7 linked regions of the Homo sapiens genome follow. The protein of the gene in region 3 interacts with the protein of the main gene of each other region in a pairwise test. Each region holds a gene or a part of one and is shown on either strand. Other genes may lie near its edges. The genes, in order: YWHAG, SETDB1, FRMD6, PARD6B, SSX2IP, PRKCA and MID2.

The links.
Region 1: the proteins of FRMD6 (region 3) and YWHAG interact in binary tests that used the Homo sapiens proteins (3 or more experiments, as listed by UniProt).
Region 2: the proteins of FRMD6 (region 3) and SETDB1 interact in binary tests that used the Homo sapiens proteins (3 or more experiments, as listed by UniProt).
Region 4: the proteins of FRMD6 (region 3) and PARD6B interact in binary tests that used the Homo sapiens proteins (3 or more experiments, as listed by UniProt).
Region 5: the proteins of FRMD6 (region 3) and SSX2IP interact in binary tests that used the Homo sapiens proteins (3 or more experiments, as listed by UniProt).
Region 6: the proteins of FRMD6 (region 3) and PRKCA interact in binary tests that used the Homo sapiens proteins (3 or more experiments, as listed by UniProt).
Region 7: the proteins of FRMD6 (region 3) and MID2 interact in binary tests that used the Homo sapiens proteins (3 or more experiments, as listed by UniProt).

The regions. Positions count from the first base shown.
Region 1 is NC_000007.14:76,331,492-76,334,991, forward strand, and holds part of YWHAG (14-3-3 protein gamma), read right to left. Parts: intron 1-3,500. UniProt on the Homo sapiens protein: Adapter protein implicated in the regulation of a large spectrum of both general and specialized signaling pathways. Binds to a large number of partners, usually by recognition of a phosphoserine or phosphothreonine motif.
Region 2 is NC_000001.11:150,957,363-150,960,862, reverse strand, and holds part of SETDB1 (histone-lysine N-methyltransferase SETDB1), read right to left. Parts: intron 1,686-3,500; coding exon 1,516-1,685; intron 301-1,515; coding exon 1-300. UniProt on the Homo sapiens protein: Histone methyltransferase that specifically trimethylates 'Lys-9' of histone H3. H3 'Lys-9' trimethylation represents a specific tag for epigenetic transcriptional repression by recruiting HP1 (CBX1, CBX3 and/or CBX5) proteins to methylated histones.
Region 3 is NC_000014.9:51,703,910-51,707,409, forward strand, and holds part of FRMD6 (FERM domain-containing protein 6), read left to right. Parts: intron 1-839; coding exon 840-1,026; intron 1,027-3,500.
Region 4 is NC_000020.11:50,734,580-50,738,079, reverse strand, and holds part of PARD6B (partitioning defective 6 homolog beta), read right to left. Parts: intron 224-3,500; coding exon 1-223. UniProt on the Homo sapiens protein: Adapter protein involved in asymmetrical cell division and cell polarization processes. Probably involved in formation of epithelial tight junctions.
Region 5 is NC_000001.11:84,683,962-84,687,461, forward strand, and holds part of SSX2IP (afadin- and alpha-actinin-binding protein), read right to left. Parts: intron 1-3,500. UniProt on the Homo sapiens protein: Belongs to an adhesion system, which plays a role in the organization of homotypic, interneuronal and heterotypic cell-cell adherens junctions (AJs).
Region 6 is NC_000017.11:66,683,613-66,687,112, forward strand, and holds part of PRKCA (protein kinase C alpha type), read left to right. Parts: intron 1-3,498; coding exon 3,499-3,500. UniProt on the Homo sapiens protein: Calcium-activated, phospholipid- and diacylglycerol (DAG)-dependent serine/threonine-protein kinase that is involved in positive and negative regulation of cell proliferation, apoptosis, differentiation, migration and adhesion, tumorigenesis, cardiac hypertrophy, angiogenesis, platelet function and inflammation, by directly phosphorylating targets such as RAF1, BCL2, CSPG4, TNNT2/CTNT, or activating signaling cascade involving MAPK1/3 (ERK1/2) and RAP1GAP.
Region 7 is NC_000023.11:107,828,866-107,832,365, reverse strand, and holds part of MID2 (probable E3 ubiquitin-protein ligase MID2), read right to left. Parts: intron 1-3,500. UniProt on the Homo sapiens protein: E3 ubiquitin ligase that plays a role in microtubule stabilization. Mediates the 'Lys-48'-linked polyubiquitination of LRRK2 to drive its localization to microtubules and its proteasomal degradation in neurons.

The sequences.
Region 1 (3,500 bases), on a different chromosome or scaffold from region 3:
AATGCAGCCCAACACAAATTCGTAAACTCTATTAAAACACTGAGAATTCTTTTTGCGATTTTTTTTTTTTTTTTAGCTCATCAACTATTGTTAGTGTTAGTGTATTTTATGTGTGGCCCAAGGGAATGTGGCCCAGGGAAGCCAAAAGACTGGACACCCCTGTACTAAACTCCTGGGGCATGGGGGAACTGAACTACCAGGAGACTTTTTTTTCTATGTTTGAATCATTATGTTCAGTATGTTGGCCCATGCCTGTAATCCCAGTGCTTTGAGACACCAGGTGGGGAGGACTGCTTGAGGCCAGGAGTTCAAGACCAGCCTGGCCAACATAACAAGGCCCCATCTCAAAAAAAAAAAAATTTTTTTTCTTAAATTATAAACGGGGGGTATGCTTGGCAAAAGTGATTACAGTCATTACTTCAAGCAGCATCTACTCAGAGATAATTAAATCAAAACATAAACCAAATCATGCTTATTAGTTTATGGCAGGCAATTCATTTTCTGAATGAATGATCAGCAAGTGCTACACGCTCAAATATTCTCTAAACTGATTAGTGGTGTTGTTAAAGTTAACATTTTCCTAGACATTACTGATGCTCTGTTTTAATGCTGGACAACGTTACTCCTACCAGCCGTGCCCTCAGTGAAACAGACTCAAAAGAGGGGAAGAATAGGGGGTGGGTACTACTTGAGTTCAGAGCAGAAGGAAACCAGGAAAGAGATGCTTTGCTCCACCACCTCTTGTTCCCGGCACTTCTGCAAACACTCCTCCTGCATGAATAAACACAGGCACCTCGTGTCTCATTCTGCACTGACGATCTGTCATCCAGCAGACCGCTGTCACTCATGCTGAATTCTGATGTGTCCACAAATAACGGAAGATTGGGCTTTTCCCAGCTCCATCATTCGCTAAGCAATCTTGGGGACAAGCCGCTTCATTTCTCTGGGCTTTGGTTTTCTTATCTGCAAAATGGGGATTTCTGCTTCTTTCATAAGGTAATATACAGGTATATCAGACAAATAAGAAAGTCTTTTTTTGTTCTTTTTGAGACATGGTCTTACTCTGTTTCCCAAGCTGAAGTGCAGAGGCATGATCACACCTCACTGCAGCCTCAAACTACTGGGCTCAAGCAATCCTCCCACCTCAATCTCCAGAGTACCTGGGACTACAGGTGTGCACCACCATGCATGGCTGATTTCTTTTTTTTTTTTTTTTGGAGACAGAGTTTCAAAAAGACCTGGTCTCACTCTGTTGCCCAGGCTGGAGTGCAATGGCATGATGTCGGCTCACTGCAACCTCCCCCCAAGTTCAAGCGATTCTCCTGCCTCAGCCTCCCGAGTAGCTGGGATTACAGGCGTGTGCCACCATGCCTGGCTAGTTTTTGTATTTTTAGTAGAGACAGCGTTTTGCCATGTTGGCCAGGATGGTCTCAAACTCCTGGCCTCAAGTGATCCACCCGCCTCAGTCTATGGCTGATTTATTTATTTCTTTATTTAGAGATGGGGTCTCACTATATCAATCCGCTGGAAGTGCAGTGGCACTATCTTGGCTCACTGCAACCTCAGCCTCCCAGGGCTTCAAGCAATCCTACCTTAGCCTCCTGAGTGGCTGGGACTAAGGCACATGCCACCACACCCAGCTAATTTTTGTATTTTTCTGTAGAGACAAGGTCTTGCCATGTTGCCCAGGCTGGCCTTGAACTCCTGGCCTCAAGTGATCCACCCACCTTAGCCTCCCAAAGTGTTAGGATTACAGGTGTGAGCCACTGCATCCAGCCATTTAAAAATTTTTAGTAGAGACAAGGTCTCACTATGTTGCCCAGGCTGGTCTTGAACCCTTAGTTCAAGTGATCCTCCCACCTTGGCCGCTCAGAGTGCTGGGATTACAGGTGACAGCCATTGTGCCCAGCAAAGTCTTCTTGAAAAAGTAAAATGCTACAGAAACATGAGGAACTACTTTTAAGAATACCCTGAATAATTTTCCTTCATTTTAGTTCTCACCACAGGGGATGTCTACATTTCCTAACGATCTCCCAGCTCATCTTCCTGTATCGAGTGTCTCTTCTCCGTTTCATCCTCTTCTCTATATTAAGCGGAAACTGCCTTAGCTGCCTCACATCGCTTCCTTTCCATAAACCCTAGTTCCATACAGCCTGAAAAAAAACTGCCCAGACTTGGCTTTGGAAGGAGCTGAGCCCTTGGGCGCTGCTGCCACCCATCTCTGGCATACTTTACTGAGTGTGCGAATGCTGAAGACAAACCGCCCCGCGGTGCAGCCCTCATGACTGCCTCCAGTGCAAGGAGAGGCCAGCGTGCCGAAGGCCACAAAGATCAAGTTCTGGCCTTTCCCCTAAATCATGTTGTCCTTATTTCAAGGGCCAGGAGCTATTTAAAGCTCAAATTATCTCACCAGTCCTGGGGGCACTCCTCCTGCCACAAATGAAGTCTCCCAGCAGTGCCCAGAGAGGCAATCTGTACTTATGTAAAGTCTGCCTAGCTGTCCCCAGACACATTGGAACAAGGAGATTATGAAATGCCAGGATCACCTTTGGATACAGTAGCTCGACCACATTTGGAACACGCCCAGATGTTCCCTGCCAGTGAAAAACTAAGTTAGAGGGGAAACCCTTCAGCTCTAAAAAGTCTAAAGAAAAGTTGTTCTGAACACCTTAAATCAAAATTTTTAAAAATCCTTTATCCTTTAGATCATAATTACTTGCATAAGAATCTGTTATTTTTAAATTAAAATAAGAGATCCCCACCATATTAGTTTTAAAGGTCAACAGATAACCTCTTAAAAGAACAAGTTATTCTAATAGTGTCTAAAATGATTTAATCAAGACAGAATGACAGAATGACTATTCAATGTGGGAAGATACGGGATCTTGTATCATTTGGGAAGGGAGGTAACATTTTTCAAAACAGTCATTAAATTTGTTGTTGTTGTTTAAACAGAGACAGGGTCTCACTCTGTTGCCCTGGCTGGAGTACAGTGGTGCAATCACAGCTCACTGCAGCCACGCCACAAACTCCTCTGCCTCAGCCTCCAGAGAAGCTGGGACTACAGGCATCTACCACCACGCCCCCTAATTTTTGTATTTTTTGTAGGGACCAGGGTCACCCTATGTTGTCCAGGCTGGTTTCGAACTCCTGAGCACAAGTGATCCTCCAGCCTTGGCCTCCTAAAGTTCTGGGATTACAAACATGAGCCATTCTGCCTAACCTTCTTCTTCTTTAAAAAAAAAAAGAAAGAAAGAAAGAAAAGAAAAGAAATGGGGTCTCACTCTGTTGCCCAGGCTGGAGAGAAATGGCGTGATCACAGCTCACTGCAGCCTCAACTTCTCAGGCTCAGGTGATCCTCCCACCTCAGCCTCCCATCACACCCTGGTTAATAAATTGTTTCTACGAATGCAACACTTGTAAACATGGTCCCCAAAATTTACTGTCATGGCTGTTGGAAAATGTAGAAAGTTTCAGTTTTTATTCCCCAGAGTTGTATG
Region 2 (3,500 bases), on a different chromosome or scaffold from region 3:
GGCCCCGGGTCTGCCTCCGGGTAGCATAGCTCCGCCACACTGAACTGGTGCTGAAGTCCTCATCCTTACAGAAGTTATCATCTGAGCTATCATCATTGGACTCTTCAGGGTCCTCTGTACCGCTGTTGCCATCTTCCTGGTCCTTCAAGTCTACACCACTGCTGTCAGAGGAACAGGGGGCATCACTCTCATATCCTTCTTTGAAGTTCTCCACGCTCTCGATATGGTCCAGATTTGCAAAGTACTCATCACCCATTTCCAGACCCTCCTTGTCTGCAAAGTCATCTGTCAGGATTTTGCCTGAGAATGAAGAGAATTAAAGGCCTTCTAGGGTTATGGGGACCTATTAGTTTTTTTTTTTGTTTGCTTTTTTTTTTTTTTTTTTCCAGATGGAGTCTTGCTCTGTCACCCAGGCTGGAGTGCAGTGGCGCGATCTCGGCTCACTGCAACCTCTGCCTCCCAGGTTCAAGTGATTCTCCTGCCTTAGCCTCCTGAGTAGATAGGACTACAGGTGCACGCCACCATGCCTGGCTAATTTTTTTTGTATTTTTGGTAGAGATGGCGTTTCACCATGTTGGCCAGGTTGGTCTCGAACTCCTGACCTCAGGTGATCTGCCCGCCTCAGCCTCCCACAGTGTTGGGATTACAGGTGTTAGCCACCGCACCCGGCCACGGGGACCTATTAGAAAGAATAAGGATTATTCCATCAATACCCGCTCTACCAGCATATAGAGTCAAAAAGCCTCCATTCTGGTCTCTCATTTCTGTTTTTTTTTTTGTTTTGTTTTTGAGACAGAGTTTCGCTTTTGTCACCCAGGCTGGAGTGCAGTGGCATGATCTCGGCTCACTGCAATCTCTGCCTCAAGGGTTCAAGTGATTCTCCTGCCTCAGCCTCCCAAGTAGCTGGGATTACAGGCATCCACCACCACACCTGGCTAATTTTTGTATTTTTAGTAGAGATGGGGTTTCAACTATGTTGGCCAGGCTGGTCTCCAACTCCTGACCTCAGGTGATCCACCCACTTCGGCCTCCCAAAGTTTTGGGATTACAGGCATGAGCCACCACGCCGGCCCAGTGTTTCTCTTTGATAATACCTCCCTTTGTATCTTAACTATGAAAGTATGGAGAACTTACTGTCATTTTAAATCTTGCCCTTTCTGTCTTTCCATTTCTTCTACTTTATTGAAACAGAGTACTGGGCTATGCTAAAAGATCTCTGAGTGGAGTGACATGGGAGAAAATGATACACTGGACTCTATAATCATGTCTGTTCTCTGAAATATCACCATGTCCAAAATTTCATCCCTTTTCATTCTCTTATTTGTGAAACACTTGTGTCCCTCTCTGGTCTAGCTAGACAGGTACATCACTCATCACGTTCTTTGTAGAAGTCCCTGGCCTCCTCTTACTCCAGTTCACATGTCAAGCACTTTCTTCTTATGTTCAATTTGTCTCTGGTTCAATTCCCTACCATGTCCCAGTCTCAGGAAACAACCCTTATATTTTATCACCAACCTGCATAAATACAAACAAAAGAGCCTTTGGCAATGTCATCCAAGCAGCGGATACCCCAGCCCTTGTTCTGTGTCTTGAATAGCTGTAGCCGAACTTGTAGTCCATGTTGCACCAACCGGTTTGTGCACATGTTTGGGTCACATTTGCAGCGTTTGTTACACTCATATACCCTGGGAGGAGGTTAGAATAAAATCAATCACGGTATGATCACTAGAGCACAAAAAAATCCATAAAACTATTATAATTCTTAAGCTATCATCATTTATAATGTGTTGTGGATAAAGATTAAAAATTAGGTAATGATCTAAGTGAGTGGATCTATTGAACCATCTATGCTCTTTGATTCATTTGGAAATGTAGCCCAAGGAAAAAATTTAGAGGGCGGAGAAATATTTATAAAGATGTCTATAGCAAGACAGCTCATAAAAGTGAATGCTAGAGTGCCTAACACCTGGAGAAAAGCTAAGTAAACTATAATGGGAATACAGATTACAGAGCCATTAAAATAAGCACTATATGGACGGTCAATTTGTAGAAATAGATGCACAAAATAAAGACATGTGAGAAATTCCTGGTGAGGTTTCTTACTAACAACAGCAAAAATAATAATAATAATAAAAATAAATAAATGTGAGAAAAACAGAGGCCAACATAACAGATACGAAAGGGAATAAAGAGATAGGAGGAACTGTGACTAATGTTCATGGTAAAGTTGATTTTCATTCTTTCATTCAGTAAACAATTATTAAACACCAAGAGCTCTACTAAACACTGGAAACATAACAATGAAAAAGATCGTGCTGGGCGTGGTGGCTCATGCCTATAATCCCAGCACTTTGGGAGGCCAAGGTGGGTGGATCACGAGGTCAGGAGAGTGAGACCATCCTGGCTAACACAGTAAAACCCCGTCTCTAATAAAAATTAAAAAATTAGCCGGGTGTGGTGGCATGCATCTGTAGTCCCAGCTACTTGGGAGGCTGAGGTAGGAGAATTCCTTGAACCCAGGAGGCGGAGGTTGCAGTGAGCCAAAATCAAGCCACTGCACTCCAATCTGGGCGACAGGGTGAGACTCTGTCACAAAAAAAAAAAAAAAGAAAAAAGAAAAAAAAGAAAAAAAAAAAGGTCATAATTTCTACCCTCAGGGAGCTCTTTTTTTTTTTTTTGGAGACAGAGTTTCGCTCTCATTGCCCAGGCTGGAGTGCAATGGCGCAATCTCAGCTCACAACCTCCACCTCCCGTGTTCAAGTGATTCTCCTGCCTCAGCCTCCCAAGTAGCTGAGATTACAGGCACGCGCCACCGTGCCTTGCTAATTTTGTATTTTTAGTAGAGATGGAGTTTATCCATGTTGATCAGGCTGGTCTCGAATTCCCGACCTCATGTGATCCGCCTGCCTTAGCGAACCAAAGGGCTGGGAGTACAGGTGTGAGCCACCGTGCCCAGCCCAGGGGAGCTCATATTCTATCTAATTTAAGAATTTGGGCCAGGCGCAGTGGCTCATGCCTGTAATCCCAGCTACTGAGGATGCTGAGGTGAGAAGATCACTTGAGCTCAGGAGTTCGAGGTTTCAGTGAGCTATGATCATACCACTGCGCTCCAGCCTGAATGACAAAGCAAGTCCACCCCATCTCTGAAAAAGAAAAAAATTTTAATTATTTTTAAACAACCATTAAAGGTAATCAGAGGGATCTAGCACATACCAACATTAAAGGAAGATAACACAGTTATACTAAGAAAACTAATTGTTTCAGGTAACAATGTTTTTGCTCTATTTGCCCAGTGTTAGAATTTTACTTATTTTCTTGGTATGTAAAATCAATGGAAGAAATTTACTTTGGAAATGTATCAACAGCTCAGTTAGTTCACGATTTTAGTCATATCCTCTCTCCAGATAAAGATGGTAAGAGCAGCTTCTAGTTACTAAGCATATACTTTTGTGTTTGGCATTGTGTGAATGCCTTATATATACATATTCTATCCTTAAAGC
Region 3 (3,500 bases):
TTACTTTGATCACAAAAGCATCCTATTTGCCAGTAAATATTTTTTGGAGCTTTTACCATGTTTTCCCCAGTCAGCATTTCTTAACGTATTTAATGATGACTGTATTTATTTCTGATCTCAAGAGATTGTAATGAGTGCTCTGTTAGTATTTCCTTTTGTGGGGAGTATAATAATTGTCGTGACATGTGCCTGTAAAAACATAACAGTAATGTAACATTCACTTCAAAAAAATCCCCAAAAAAAGATTTAAGGAAAGCATTCATTGCATTTCTTCTTGGAGAAGTTTAAAAAACGGAAAAGAAACCTTTGTTAAGCAAATTTTTTTCCAGAAGAGTATATATGCAAATACTTATAAAGGGCCTTAGAGTATTTGTAGTGTGTTCAGTTAAAAAATAATAAAAAGAACAGCAAAACACTGAAGCAGGATTGCTCCTCAGATTTTTCCTTATTTATGTCACGTGTGTAGCATCATTGTAGCAACATTAGTACAGACAACACATGTCTAGTTTCTATTCTAATACTTGTTCAGTGAAATATTTACCATTTTAGAGTGGAATGATTCAGACCTTTTTCTTCTCTGAATGAATCAAATGCTGTAAGCCTTAGGAAACGTTATTTTTATTGTCTGGATAGTCTGATTTGGGGTTCTGACCCCCTGCAACCTCAGTGAGGCAGCTATCAGATATTAGCTACAACCGCTTCCTTTTCAGTGAGGTGGGAGGGAGGAGCAGAAACAGAAGGGTTCCTGTCACCAGATGGAGAGAAGGATTTGGGTTCTGTTTACATGTCATTGGATTATTCCATCAAAATGTGAGTTCTGTTTTCTTTTATTTTTCTAGTGACAGAGCAGCAAGATACTATTATTACTGGCACCTGAGAAAACAAGTTCTTCATTCTCAGTGTGTGCTCCGAGAGGAGGCCTACTTCCTGCTGGCAGCCTTTGCCCTGCAGGCTGATCTTGGGAACTTCAAAAGGAATAAGCACTATGGAAAATACTTCGAGCCAGAGGCTTACTTCCCATCTTGGGTAAGCACTGTTTTCAAATTCGAAAGAGTGTTTTCTCTCGGGCATTTCTAGTTCGTAGTGTTGCTACTCATACTCTTTAAGAAATGGGAACACAGATGTTCTGTGGCCAAATTCTTTGTGATGCCCAGATATTTAATGCTTAAGAACGTGGTGCACATCATGTCTTCATGTACTTAGTCTGCTTATGGTGAGTGGGGTAGAGAATTGCCATCCATCCTGATAATACAGTGGAGCTTGGAATTTACCAGCCTCCTTTCAGCATTGACATGCCCTTGACCTTCTTGCCTACTCTTACCGAAGCAGTATTTTCTCCCTTTGAAGGCAGAAAAACATAACTCTTTAAAAAGTAAGATTATTCCTCGCTTTCCTTTGCTGCGAGAACAAGTATGTCAACTTCTGGCTCCGGCCTCCATGTCCTCCACTCTCGGGGAGGAACTAACCCCTTCTTTCAGCAAGAAAATGTGGGTTATTCCAACGTGAACTGTCTCAGCTGCGCTTTCTCCACTCCACCCTGTCTGTTTCTCTTCCCGTCCTTCCTCCATGTCTAGGCTGTATTTTCTGTCTCTCTTCTATATCATTAGCCCCTCCCCAAAGTAACTCTTCTTCAGTGAGAACATGCAAAACATGTTTGGTTCTCACCCACCCATCCTTGAGAAAGAAAGTGGGGAGGGAAAGAAGAGCTACTACTCTTGCCTTTCCTTCTCAGTAAAGCATCTTGAAGAGGTAGTGTGTATTTGATTTTTTCAGCTTCTTTACTTCCCACAAGTGTTCCTCAAGCCATTTCCATCTGCCTTCTTTCCCCATCAGTCCACTCATGGTGCTGCCTGTTAGGTTGCTTTATATCAATACAGTAAAGAAGTAAAAAATTAAATATGCACTACTTTTGCTTTATATTGACACCAGTTGCTTTATATTAACATATCCAGCAGACTCTTTTCACTAAATTTTGCTGCTGTACCTGACACTTAACTACTCACATCTTGGGAGATCTCATCCAAATTAATGCTTTTAACGATCACCTATGTGAAGGCAAGTCCCAAATCTGGTTTTTTCCCCTATATCCATAAGGTAGCTGTTTACCCATAGGCCGTTCAAACTCAAGATGTCCTAAATCAAATTCATTTTCTTGCCACCTCATTTCTACGTATTCCTACCTCTGAGTACGTGGGAGTCATACGGAACTCTGCCTTATCACCATTCCTTCTCCCTGTCCTGTCCCATCAACTGTAACACCTTGTAATGTCTGTGCTTGAATACCAATCACCCAGCTTAAGAAATAAAATTATCTTCTATTTTTATTGCCATTAGCCTTCCTAAATGTCCATTGCCTCCTCTCCCTGTCTTAGCTCCTGCTGTTTCTAGGTTCGTGTTCTCAGCAGCACTGTTGCAGAAACTTGTCCCTGCTTCGGTCTTTACTCCACAGCTTGCAGATGAGATGATTTTGCTTCTGACTTAAACTTTCAGGGCCTCCTCTGTCACCTGTGGAGTGAAGCTCAGGCTCCCATGCATAACCTAGAAACTCTCCAGATTATAGTCCCTGCCAGCCATTCCAGCTTCCTTTCTGGTTGTCCTGCACCTTGAACTTTAGGCTCTGGCAACATCCAGCCATTGGTGTGTCTCCATACTTACTGTGGTGTTTCATGCTTCAGGTCTTTCTTCTTGCAGTTCCTTTAGCCAGTGAAGCCCCTCTCTGTTTCACCTGGCTAACTCCTACTCATCCTCCGAGACTCAGCCCAGGTGTCGCTCCTTCTGGGCAGACCATCTAGGTGCCCAGTGCTCAAGAAGAACCTGGGAATAGTGTTTTACATCTTATTTTAAAATGATTTATTTCTTGCTCCCAGTAAACTGTTTCTTAGTGTGTTCTGAAAGACGGGCATAACCTTAACCTTTTCTATTTCATCAGCTCTTCATATTGAGGTACTCAGTAATTTTTTGTTGTGTGACTTAGAGTGCTTCATTTTTTTGGAGAGAAATCACAATGTCTGTCAAACTATTGCTGTCTGTAGCATGTTTGCATTCTCTGGTTGTCATCAGGTGCTCATTGAATATTGATTATTGAAATCCAGTTAGTATGCCAGGGCAACCAGTGTGCTGAGATATCAGTTTCCCCCACCCTTGGGATCACCAAAGCCATCTGCTTTAGTGCCCTTACAAATACTGTTTTCAGTGTGCTTTTGACCTGAAAAAAAGGTTGATAAATAACTGATTTAACTGATTACCATGTGAAAAGAACCTGGAAAGAAAAATCTGTGTAACTTGAGTTCTTAGCAGAACTTGACAACTGACTATTAATTCATCATATTTAATTCTCTGTAAAATATTCAATAGGAAGAAACAAAATGTCAATATAAAGACATTTTAAAACCAAAAAGTCTGTAATTTTTAAATTTTGATTATTTTAAGCACGACTCTTGCTCACATTGCATAATTCTTTCCATCTGTTAAGTTCCTTATGGAATCAGCTAAGACTTTAA
Region 4 (3,500 bases), on a different chromosome or scaffold from region 3:
CCTTCTTTTGTATAAATATCCTAAGCAGTGGATTGGCCGTTGAAACAGCTTTGTGATAATTATCATCATTATTTATAGGTAGTAAGTCTCCATGGATGTCTGCATAGCCTACCAAAACGTCAACATTGGGGATCTTATGAACATGTTGTAGTAATCCATAAAACTCCTCAAATTTTCCAGGTTTTGATCTTTCCAGCGAAAACCGACGAAATTCAGCTCCAAACTATAAACGTAACAAACATATTACTTAAAAAAAAAAAAAAAAGTAAAAGGACCCAATTTGAAAATGCATGCCATAGAAAAATTAACGAGCAGAGCAAGTATTTTTAATTAAGGAAAGATTGTCTATTGTGAAGAACCTTACTATCAGGGATTTTAAAAAGCCTAAGAAAGGCACAAGAATGTGCCTCCTGACTGCTGTGTCTCTGAAGAGCATTCCTTTCAAGAGAGGCAGGCTCAACTCTATCTATCCCTGGGGTACCTAGGCCTTACTGCGGACTGTTCTGCATAGTGACTCAGCTCAAACCCTGTCTGGAGCCCAGACTCTGACGGCAATGCTCTCCTCAGGTGCATCATGGGGTACCAAAGACTTGTCCAAGTCCTTATTTTGACCAAAGGAAAGCATTTAAGTGTCCTCCCCCATAAATGGAACTAGGATTTCATGGTATGTGGTAAGAATCAACAGCAAAATATACAAAAAGAACTGTGAGCTACGTGGCGTTAAGGTATGATCTTCCCTATGTTAATGCAGAAAAAAATAAGCTTCAGTAATACATCAAATGTATGTCCTATAACTATCCAATTAACGCACAAAGTGTTTATGTGTTTGGCACAGTGCTAGGCCCTAGAGATTGAAAGCCTCGAGCCTGCTCCAGAAGCTCACCAATTAGTGGGTAAAGAGAATAATTACTTCAGGGAGGTATTAAGAGATCACACAAATGGGGCGGAATGGGGAGGAAGACAGCCTCCATCATGCCCAATACTTACCTTCACAGTTCTGATTCTGAAGTCTGTTTCCCTACACCTCTGTTTTCCCAATGTCAAATAATTAAAAGTGACTCTTATTCAACACTAAGAACTGAGGCCAGGCGCGATGGCTCACATCTGTAATCCCAGCACTTTGAGAGGCTGAGGCGGGAGGATCACAAGGTCAGGAGTTCAAAACCAGCCTAGCCAACATGGCAAAACCCGTCTCTACTAAAAATACAAAAATTAGCCAGGTGTGGTGGCACATGCCTGTAGTCCCAACTACTCAGGAGGCTGAGGCAGGAGACTCTCTTGAATCTGGGAGGCAGAGGTTGCAGTGAGTCGAGATCATGCCACTGTACTCCAGCCTGGGCAACAGAGCAAGACTCCGTCTCAAAAAAGAAAAAAAAAAAAAAAACCAAAACACTAAGGACTGGCTTCATCTAGTCCATGATAAACAGGATTTATAACACTGTGGGAATAACATGGCATTTCCTCAAACGTGGAAACCTAAGAAAAGTTAATCTGCCTTCCTCAAAAAGTGTCCCAGTCATGTAAGTTTGAGAAACGCTACATAATTATGCTCTTGGGAATCACTGCGGAGACCAGCACTTTAAAGGCTCATTTAAGCCCTATGTTGGTTTTTAAAAATATTTAAACGAACGTTTGCCTAATGTGTTTAACCACTGAACTCATATTTCTTCCACCTATCTATTACTAGCAAGAAATACTAATGTAAAAATATTATGTCCCAGAGAAAAAAGGAAAAGAGAAATACTGTTGGTACAGCCTTAAGCATCATGTAGAGAAAGCCCCTACCATAATAATTTGAGTTTACAAATATGTCACTTCATTTTCCCAAAGGTCCCATGGGACATCTGGATTCACTGGTTTTGCTCTATCTAAAGTTCACCTGCTCTGCTTACACCCATACTCCTCAGTGGTTTTAACATCAAAACTCACTAAAAACACCTCTTACCTCTAACAAAAATTAAAATAGTTCCCAAAACACATTCCTGAAACATAAACACTAACATCTGTCAAGAAAATAAGGTGACTCATACCTAAGGCTCTCAAAAAGTTTAGTCACACCTTCACATTTCAAAGTAAATAAAAACTCAGGGAACACCCTTCATATCAGTTAGTCTCATGATGTTATCAAAAGTCACAGTTTCTCCTCCATTTTCTTTATTCTGGTATCACAACATGAAGTTGCTAGTGCTTGCTGATTCATCCACAGGGTTTATCACTTCCCCTGATGTATGAATGGGAATAACATCTGATCATTTAACATTTTAGGGCTTCAATGTTTTTGTTAAAGCTTTTGGATGAAATTTCTTCGCTCAATATTTTCTCTTGCTTAACTGTTATGATAAAAACAATAAAAAATTGTATGGCTTCATGGTATATTTGCACTTTTGCCAATATTGGCATGGGAAAAAAAAACCCAAGAGAAATTGTTATGCTTCTTGCAACACAACAATAGGATTAAGGGAACTTTTTACATGAACAAAAACACTAAGAGACAAAATTAAGATTCAATCAGCAATTATTCACTTGTGAACCATTTACAACTGTTTCATAGCCTAGTTTGCCCTAGCCATCCAGAATGTGTATGGACTCCCTTCCCCCAGTGTCTGTTGGTACATTCTAGAAATGCAAACTTAATTTTCATAGTCTATTTGCCTATGAATAATAATTAGGAAATTTTATGACTCAAAGACTGTTCCAGGGTTATTAAAGGACATCATCAAGATTATTGATTAAGAATCTTCCCAACACTAGAGATACAATTAGGAAGATAAAACAGTTACCAAAGAAAAGTCACATACTAGCTGGTACCACAAATTGAACTATAGGTATATTTACATTCTCCATTCTTTTATCATTACTATTTTTCCCTTCCACGTGTGAAGATAATAATGTTGACACTACTGCTTTATTGCATTTTTTTATTTTTTTGAGACAGAGTCTCCCTCTGTCACCCAGGCTCTGAAGTGCAGTGGCGCAATCTCGGCTCACTGCAACCTCCGCCTCCCAGGTTCAAGCAATTCTCCTGCATCAGCCTCCGGAGTAGCTGGGATTACAGGCATATGCCATCACGCCCCACTAATTTTTATATTTTTAGTAGATACAGGGTTTCACCGTGTTGGCCAGGCTGGTCTTGAACTCCTGACCTCAGGTGATCCGCCCACCTTGCCCTCCCAAAGTGCTAGGATTACAGGTGTGAGCCACCATGCCTGGCCAACATTACTGTTTATATGAAGAAAAAGAGATCCTAAAAATGGACCGGAACCCAGTGTGGTGGCTAATGCCTATAATCCAAACACTTTGGGAGGCCTAGGTGGGAATATCACTTGAGCTCAGGAGTTAGAGACCAACATGACCAACATGGCAAAACCCTGTCTCTAAAAAGATAAAAAAAAATTGAAAATAGTAAGAGAAAAATGGACCAGCTAGGTGCAGTGGCTCACGCCTGTAGTCCCAGTACTTTGAGAGGTAGAGACGGGCGGATCACTAGAGCTCAGGTGTTC
Region 5 (3,500 bases), on a different chromosome or scaffold from region 3:
CAACTTTTAAGGTTAAAAGTCAGCTAAGAAGTCCAAATCAAATTTTAAAATTACTATTTATTGGTATTTCACTCCTCAAATAATGAAATGGTAATAGCATCTACTAAAGGCATTGGAAATAACAAAGAAACCAAACATAATTAATAAATCTACTCATCGTTTTTTCAATGATTTAGCCCAAATTCAATCATTGGTTATAGTTGTCAACGTGTGGTCCTGGGACCAGCAGCATCAACATCACCTGACTCAATAAAAATGCAAATTATCAAGTGCCACTACAGACCTACAGATTCAGAAACTTTAGTGGTGGGAGAACCTCCACGTAATTCTGACAAAGTTTGAGAATCACTGCTGTGTTCTATAGAATGTGGTTCAGTATAAATTAGTATTCTATTTATATGCACTTTCAATTAGAGAACACCAAAAAGGAATTCTTATCTAAGGGTCCTACAAAATGGATTCCAAGAATGATGTAAAAGTGTTCCAAAGCACTAAATGGAGGCTGAAAATAACAGTCCTAGGGAATGCCTGGCTAAGCAGCTTATTAAACCTTAGAGGATGGGGGGAAACTCTGAAAAATAAACAGTTCATCAGCTGAATATTCATTTATCCTATTCACATACTCTACAGCCCAGCAAGTCCACTCCTAGTGAAACCCAATCGAAACTCTTGCCTACGTATGCCAGGAGGTGTGCACCTATACAGCAGCATTCTTCACAATAGCGAGTAGCACAAGAGTATCACCCTGGAAACAACCCATATACCACCAACAGGAGAATGGATAAATTATGCCATATGCACAAAATGGAATATTATGCAGTAATCAGAAAACTTCAGTGACACATAATATAAATTTCAGTATTATAAAATGAAAAAATTTTCAGAAGATAGGGCATGTAATATATACAGTTTTAAATTATGTGATGCAATAAAACTATAAAAGACACCGAGAGAATGATGAATATAGGATTCAGTAAATAGCTGCCTCAGGTGAGGGACAGAGGAAAAAGGAATGGAGGGGCCCACAGGGTTATGCACAGGGTTAGGTGGTACTTACTGTATTATTAAAACTATAAATGGACCAATTAAACAAACGTGTCATGAGCCAAGGAATATAAACTAATTCTTTACACCTGAAGTCCTTTAAAATGCTTTAAATACATATATATAAAATGTTCCTCCAATATTTCAAACAATTCTAAATTCTACCCAGTCAGTTTGGCTGTGGAGGCACCAAGAGCCCTGGGTCCTTGGCCTTACTGCCAACTCAGGGGTTAAAATGTTTTGGGTCCCAAAACCCAAAGCCAATGACCCTCTTCCTTTAAAAGTACAAGAACAGGCAATTTGGGCTAGAGTTTCAGAGGATCTATGAAGCCATCCATTTGCAAAGGATCCATGGATGGCAAGTTAATAACTCCTGTACTAGCTAATTATGTGAAACTGGTAGGAGAGAAGCTGATGATGAACTCAAGAGCACCTAATGCATGCCAGATGGGGCTCCATTAGCTGTTATCACTTAATCCTCACGCTAGCCCTAGGAAGGAGTAAAGATAGCACTGGTTTATTGATGGAAGAAACTGAGGCAACAGATTAGGTAACTTACAGTTACAAACCTGGAAGACAGAAATAAAATCCAGCTATTTAACCTGGAAAGACTAAAAACTAGCTATTTATGATTCCAAAGCCTCACAGGCCTGGTTTCCTCCTGACATTCAACAAATATGCTGAGCAAATGATATCAATTCTCTGAGCCTATCGCCTCATTATAAAACAACATGGCTAATGATGGGTTGTACTTACAGATTATTTCTATGATGTTGGCTTGCTTTTATAGTCTAGATCCTATGCAGGGGGATATTCCTGAAATTTGGCTATAGAATAGAAAATAAAATCGAAGGCTATAGAATAGAGAATAAAATAGATAGGAAAGCACAACCAGATTACAATTAACAGGCAAATGAAAAGTATAGGCAGTGGCTGGAACCCATCTTGAATTTTAAGTATCTACTTTACACTATTTAGGCTCTATATACGATTTCAAAATTATTTAGTCCTACAATTCTTTTAGAACAATATTTCTCTACAAATCTCCTCCAAACTTAATGCTTGCAAAATAAGTTCTATTTGTAGCACCGTGGCACAAAAATATATTCTCAGTGCTGACTGTATGCCAAGAACTACACATGAAGTAACTTAAATACTTTTTTGCTTTTTATCTTAATTTTTAAAATTTTTTTACAAAAAGCATACAATACTTTTATAATCTGAAAAAAAAATCTTTGAGACAGATATTATAGTAAACTGGGCAATTAATGGTCAGGGACCAGCTGGCTGACTTAGTCAGTGACTGAGGATAGTGAAGAACAGGTAAGAAATAATTCAGGACATGGTGACAAGTACACAAAAGGGAGGCATCTACTCTCTCACATAAAAACCTGTCTTTGGCACTTGACAGATAATAGTGTCATTTAGATAAAGGGAACAGAGGAGTAAAGTTAGTAAAACTGGGTTTGGGCAAATGTGTGGAGATAATGAGCTTTGTGTAGCTTACTGGGTTTGGAGATGCCCTTATGAGACATTCACATGGGGATAAACTCTAGGCCTAGAACTCACAAGACATCCGAGCACATTTAGATAGATGAATTCATAAAGAAAAAAGGGGCAGGAGAACAAACCCCAAAGAACATCAACATAAGCGAGTGAAGCAGACCCAGACACAAGAGATACAAAGAGACAGGGGAACGGACTTCAGGAAAGCCAAGGGAGAAGACTTTTAAAGAGAAAGGGTGATACACAGCAGCAAATGCCATAGAATGGGCAGGTTTTGAATTTTAAAAAGTGTTGAATTCGGTGATTAGTGACTTAATGACAAAGCTGAGGGGTAAAAATGAAAATCAGACTTCAGAAAGATGATCACCAAATAAGAAAAGGAAAATCACTTGTTCAAGAATCTCAGTTTAAAAGAATGTTAGTTTCTCTGAATGTAGAGGCTTTATTAGACGCTCATGGATAGATCTAGCATGACAAAAAAAAAATCCTGTCTTTAAAGTCTGTTCTTACTCAATTACAGCATTTTTATATCAAGTAGAAATATTAAGTGCTCAGTAAGTATGAGCTATTTTTCCAGGCATTGTTCTGGATACTAACCTATTTTTCTAATCACACCCCTACGAAGCAGGTATTGTTATTATCCTTCATAAATGCGACAACCAGGGCACAAGATCACATAGCTAGTAGTGTGGTAGATCAAACCGAAAATGTGACTCAAGAGAATATGAGAAAAGGATATGTGTGAAGCAAGAGTTAAAAGATGAGAACAACTGGAGTTAAGATTGTTCTGAATGTTTAACTGCTTGTAGTTTCATTTCTATTTAAAAACTTATTTTTGCTAATTTGAAAGACTATTTCTTCTCTCATCTCAGAATCCTACATTGCTAGAGTCTGACATTTTTATGTCTGACACCCAGATTCTGTACTGCATTATAACTGTGTTATTTCTC
Region 6 (3,500 bases), on a different chromosome or scaffold from region 3:
TCGGGGGGATAGAGTCTCACTGTGTCACCCAGGCTGGAGTGCAGTGGCATGATCTCAGCTCACTGCAGCCTCCGCCTCCTGGGTTCAAGCGATTCTCGTGCCTCAGTCTCCTGAGTATCTGGGATTACAGGTGCCCACCAGCACGCCCGGCTTCTTTTTGTATTTTTAGTAGAAATGGGGTTTCACCATGTTGGCCAGACTGGTCTCAAACTCCCAACATCATGTGATCCACCTGCCTCAGCCTCCCAAAGTGTTGGGATTTGACTCCACATCTTGATCACATCTTTCCCTTGTTTCTCTCTTCTGTCTCTAGCCCTTGTTCTCATCCGCTTCCCCACTTCAATTTTCCTCTTATTTTCTCTTTCCTAGCTTCCCCAGCTTCCCCTCTTCCATCTTCCTTACAACTATTCCTATGAGTAATGCCCCCTAGCATTGCCTCTTAGCCTGACATTCTTGAAACCATACAGTTGAAACCCTGTTAGAACATTACCACACTGTACTGTTTTCCCCGGCATTTGCTTACCACTCCGTAAGCTGTTGGTGCAGTTTCTGCACATCTAAGATTGTTCTCCACCAGTAACTTGTATTAAGAGCAATTATGATCATCACTATTGTGCTCTCACCGAGTGCCTATCACTGCTCTAAGCACTTTACATGGATGAGCCTACATAATCCTTGCTTGAAGGAGATATAATTTTCCAGATGAGGAAACTTAGGAAGATAAAATAGCTTGTCCACAACCACAGAGTGGCAGAGCCAGAATTCAAATGCAGGCAGCCTTGCCCCAGATCCTACACTCTGAGCAGATGGGACCCTAAGTTAGTTGCTCGTAATCCTGATTCAGGTGTCCTGGCATGCCATGAGTCACACTCACACAGGCTGTTCTCTGCTGTGATAAGAAATTGAAATTTGGACCCACTATTTGCTTCAATGACATTTAGAATTGATAACTCTTTTTATTTTCAACTTAAATGGTAGTATCTCAGTAGGACACTCACAGCTTTAAATCCCATCAAGATTTTAACTCATCACCATTCCGAAGAGATCTTACTTAAATGATTTTTTTTGTGTGTGTTGTCTGTCAGGAATATAAATTGAAGATATAAAAGCCAGCACCCGCAATAATTCTGCAACTGGTAGGAGGCAACCCAGGACCTCTTGGTGACCTTAATAAGGGTCTTCTTTGGCTTATCCAGGATGTGACCTTCTGCAGCCTCCAGTATTAGACATTCCAGGGCATTTTCTGCCTTTTAAAAAGCATCTGATTCTCATTCTGGTGTTTAATCAGAGAGAGACCGTTGGCCTCTTTCCATTCCTCATGGGAGAGCTCCATTTTTGTGCTCACATTTTTCATCTTTGGTGATACTCAGGGTTGATGTTTTAGTGGGCTAGACTTTCTGCATTGGATTAAAACCTTTCACATGAGCTTGGTGAATTCTCCAGTGACCAAGTCCCCTGGGGGCCTCCAACCCTATAGATTCCAGCATGATAAGAGTGGAAAGGAGTCCGGAACATCATGCCTGGGGTATAGTGAGCACTCACACCATGGATTTATTTTTTCATTTTCCAAGCCCCCAACCATGTAAGGTATTTTATAAACATTATTTTATTTGATTCTCCCAACAATTCTATACCACTGGAATTATGTCCGTCTTCATTTTTCTAGATGAAGAGACAGAGGCTCAGAGACTAAGCTTCCCAGTGCTCAGGGTTACATGGTGAAGGAGGCAGAGTTTGCATGTACACCTGCTGAGCCACAGGGACCATGCCTATGTGTTTTATTTGTGTGCTATCTGCTCCCTGAGATGAATGAGGTTAGATATTTTCTTAGGAGAAGAAATACTTGGAAGGCACAAATGGGGTATGACAAACTATGTTCAGCTTCTCTGTGGCTAGCAGACCTGAGCTAGCCCCCTCCCCCTCTGTATTTGAATATAGTCCCATCTGTTACCTACCTATGTAAGGCTTCCAGGTAAGGAGGATGTAAGGCTGTTGGCTGGCAGGAGGCAGAACACAGTAGATCCACAGACTAGTAAAGGCAATGCCTGTCTCTGACTTCCGATCTTAGGGCTGTACCTCCCTCATTTGTGTCCAAAGACCCAACATCTTTAGGGTTCTCCCCCTGCCTCCTCCCCATCTAACCCTGCCCACTGACAACTCCAGTGCCTTCTTCTCAAGTTCTTCTGTAATTCTTAATTTAATAATCAAACTATGCTGATAAACTATGCTAATTGCCTAGATCTGTGGTTCTGCAACTTTTATGGACATCAGAATCACCTGGAGGCTTGGTAAACACAGATCATTGGACCTCACCCCAGAGTTCTGATTCAGGAGGTGTTGCCAGTGCCGCCGGTCCAGGGACCACACTGTGGGAACCACTGAATCAGGGAGCCTGGTCCCAGTTATATGTGTGTTGATGGTGTCTGACCAGTTGGGTATCTGATAATTCAGCCTTACTGGGAAAGATGCCATGGGAAGATAGGAAGGCATTTGAGATAGGAGACTCAGGCTTTTGTCCCTTCATCATAGCAGTAGATAATTATCTTTTACGTTGACGTGCAGTGGCTTTAGACAGCTTCTCATGGTTGTGAGCCTCTGCCAGCTCTTAAATCTTTGAGCCTGTTTTCCTCTGTGGATGAAATGGCCTTTCCTTCTAATTATTTTTGATTCCCATATCAGGTTTCTCAAGCTAAGATTGCATTGGAAGCACCTGGAGGTCTTGTTAAAGTGAGGATTCTGAGTTATTAAGTCTGAGGTGGGACCCAAGGTTCTGCATGTCTAATGAGCTCCCAGGTGATATAGATGCTGCCGGTCCATGGACCAGCAATTCTGAGTTACAACTGTATACAGCAGTGGTGCTTGCCCCTGCTGCCCAGTAGAATCACCCAAGGAGCTTTTAAAAACGAATACTTGAGCCACATTCCTTGGAGATTCTAGTTTAATTCTGGGGATTAGAATTTTTAACTCCCCCATTCCCCAACCCCCATGTGATTCCAATGTACAGTCAGAGTTGGAAGCCATTGGCCTTTACCCACAAAAAGGGATAACACCTTCTGGGAGCTCAGGTGCGTGTGTGGCACCATAGACCAGGTTGGGCTGGTCGCTTCCATGCAGGGAGGGTGCACCATTACTCCTGGGGAGCTGCAAAGGTCACCTGGGAATCTTGTTAAATTACAGATTCTGCTTTGGCAGGTTTGGGGTGGGACCTGGGTTTCTGCATTTCTAATAGATATCTTAGTGTTGCTGATGCTGCCAGTCCAGGCTGGTGCTAAGTCCCAAGACCCACCCACAAGGGCCCACACGATGCCCATTATCTCTGCCGGTGGTGGCAGCGGGTAGCTTTTCTCATGTCGAGTGTTAGAGGCTTTTGGCTTCCACCATCTGTCTCCTTAAACGCCATTCTGACGTCTCTTTTATTCAGCTTGGTATTGACACAAGACAGCGGGCAATATAGGTCTGTTCTCTTTTTGTAATATTTTCTTCCTTCTCTCTTCACAGTA
Region 7 (3,500 bases), on a different chromosome or scaffold from region 3:
ACTCCTCCACAAGACTTCTGGAAGATCATGGGACTGATCATGGTATTTGTTATGCTCATGTCTTCACTTTTAGACTGGGATCCCCACCCCTCTCCAAGTGAAGGGCTGTCTCTTTTCTTTTCTCTTAAACTTTCATCCTGCACAGGGAGAACTCAGAACTGGAGGCTGATTACCGACTGGCAGAGAGCACCAGTGCCAGCTCCTGTCTAATAGGTTATTAAAGCCTACTTAATATTTTATAGTACATGGAATTAATGTATGTTCTTTTCAATAATTAGTTTTTAAATCCAAACATTGAGTATTTTATACAAGATAGTCATCATATAAACATTAAAATGAGTATCAAAATAGCAGAACTAGAAGTCCTAAATCTGCTACAAACCCAAAAGGTTAATCCAAGTAACCAACAAATGGATTTGCCAAGGTAACACATGATAATTGACAGGAATCCTAAATACAATTCATAACACCTTTATCTTAATGCAGATTACACTGGCAGTTGCAGGGTTGAGGAACAAATGGAAAACAAACTTAATTTACCTATGACTACTGGTACAGCTTTCCATCTCCTCTAGGATTGCTTTTCCTAACCTCTGTTACCCAACAAAATATTTGTAAGTTTTTAAATGTTCAGTGGTTCACCTGGACAGGCAGTCATCTACACAATAAAAATGGCAATATATGTATGTAAGACATGTTATTGAATGTTAGGCTGAGAGGACCCCAAGTTCAGGTCAGAAACAAGGGACAGAGAACAGAGGCCTATTTGAAATCAAGCTTCTACTTCCCTGGGAACCACATGGATCCTAGCAACACTGAACAAAGGGCTATACACAAAGTGATCAAGGATCTGGATCGTAAACCATTTTTCTATCTCTGTGCTGTATATATTAAGACACTTCACTGTCATGAATTAGCATTGTCTGCCATGCCCATACATTATGCTCCTATCCAGGCAAATTGCAAATACTGGGATTTCATGTTTCAGGACGATTTCAGATTGTATGATGGGTTTGTTATCAGATTGTTCGGTCTCAGTAAGACGATGATCCAGAGACTGGGGATGCCGTTCATCAACCAGCGGAGTCTGACCTACGGGAAGGAAGCTGAGACAAAGCCCAAGGTCAGGCAGCCAGAGCTCTGCAGGGAGGCCAGAACCCAAGTAGGATAATGCTTACAAATGATACTTTGCCAACCCACTTAGGCTGAACCAGCATCCTAGAGTGTATTCAGGTGAATCCCACAAGGAAAAGGAAATAATGGGATGCTGGCACATTACTCAAAATCCCTCCACCACCCACACTTTAAGCATCTTATACTATCTAGTAGTCTTAGTAATTTATAGAATTTCTAAAAGAAAACTCAGCATCTGGGAGATTCATCATCAAAAGGATTATATCTGCCTATGGTCATAAAGAAGGGGAAGACAGAAAGAGAGAAACAAATAGAAACAGCCACAGACTACTTAAGCCCACAGAAAACTCTTAGCAGAGTTTTAATACATGAAAGTGGAGAAAGGAACATATTTAATATATTGAGGAGGTAAATAAAAAGTAGATTAGCTATCTGTACAAGAAGATAATTACAGCTGGAATTTCTTGTCTCAACACCACTCATCTGGTCTTCTCACTTGCTAGCATGACCCAACACACCAGTTGAGAAACACTTTTCTAGTCTCTTCTGTACACTGCTTAGTGATGAACACAATATTTTTTGAGAGACCTGAAGTACAGATGTTAGTGCAACACCATCTTGGTACCAAAATTTCATTTATCAAAATGTAAACAATTTTGAATTATCCAAAACTGTTGTATATCCAGTATCAACATGTTACATCTCATATTTTGATGATGCAATGTTCTAAGTCAAGACACCCAGCTTAATGAGTAAGGAGTGCTTCATGAACACAGAGCTTCATTCTCGCTTTTGTGCCAAAGAGAGGACAAAAACTTAATGCTAAATGGAAATGGAGCACCCCCTGGCCTCTACTAGCAGCCGAGCCCCATGGCCTAACAGCAAGGATATTACCAAGATTCATAAAGATTGAATGGCAGACACACACAAGACCAAGCAGGTATTTCCAAGAGCAGCCATTTGAGACATATTCTGTGCCCACAGCCCTGTCTTCACCCTTTTAAGGGCTCTGTGTCCCTGTCTGAAAAGACAGAGCTTGAGTTCTATGGGATAGAATGAGAAGACAACATTCTCTCCTCTTCACCAAGCCAATGAGGTTTGCTGAATGATGAAGACAGACATACTCCTTGTGTAGTTCCCTTGTCAATTATTGTGGTGTCAGCAGATTTTATGGGAGGAGGGATGAAGGAATGGACAGGCTCACTACTCAGAGCAATATTTGGATGCAATTGTGAGACTCCACTGGCACCACTTTAGGATCTGCGAGTTGAAGCAAGTTTCCCTGCTCTTAGGGAAGGGATTAACTAAATCAGTTTTATCTAAATCAATTTGCACCATTCAGATGATATGTTCATAAAGCAATCAAGTCACTCTGATTTACAGGAGTACTTCCCAGAGGTGGCCTTGCAGGGTGCAACATGCCAGACGAGAATTCTAGTAGTCATGAAAACAAATAAGAGGGACACAACCACCCTTTCATGTCCCTAGCCTCTACCCATGTCCTGCACAGCCCCTCCCTGACCTAATCCTGGAGTTGCAAGTATGGAGTTTGGCGTGGAACAAGCAGGAGGCCAAAATACTGGGCTAAATCTGGGGCCTCAGCCCAATCAGCAGAGGTCCTCTGCACATTATAGGTGCTTAATATTGTTGACTCTGCTACTAGGTGCTAATCATGCTTATATAGCCATACCCCAAATTATTTATGACACTTTTCATTAGAAGCTAACAAACTGCCCCCATATAGGCTAAAAAATGGGTGAGGTTATGTCTTCAAATTAGTCTGACTCAGATTGTTAGGTTAGAGTGCATTAGAAATGATTCAAGCCTCAACTTAAATTGATCATTATTACTCTGTATGCCTAGTTGCATGTATGTTTTCATTCAGTTGAACATGTATTGGAGAAAAACCAGATTTAGGACCTACGTACAATGATACGATTTGGCTCTGGGGGTGGGAAGCTAAAGGTTTTCAGTAAGCTAAGATTCCTGCTTACACCCAGTCAATCCACTAACTCAGTAAAAGGTAAAGGAAGTGCTTTCTTTGAAAAGTATAATGTTGGCTGGGTGTGGTGGCTCACACCTGTAATCCCAACACTTGGACTTGGCAGGTGGATCCCTTAAGCTCAGGAGTTTGAGACCAGACTGGGAAACATGGTGAATCCTGTCTCTACAAAATATTCAAAAATTAGCCGGGTGTGATGGTGTGTGCCTATAGTCCCAGCTACTAAGGAAGCTGAGATGGGAGGATTGCTTGAGCCAGAGAGGTCAAGACTGCAGCAAGCCATGATCACACCACTGCACTCCAGCCTGGGTGACAGAGCGAGACTTCGTCTCAAAGGAAAAAAAAAGTATAATGCTGAGGGTTT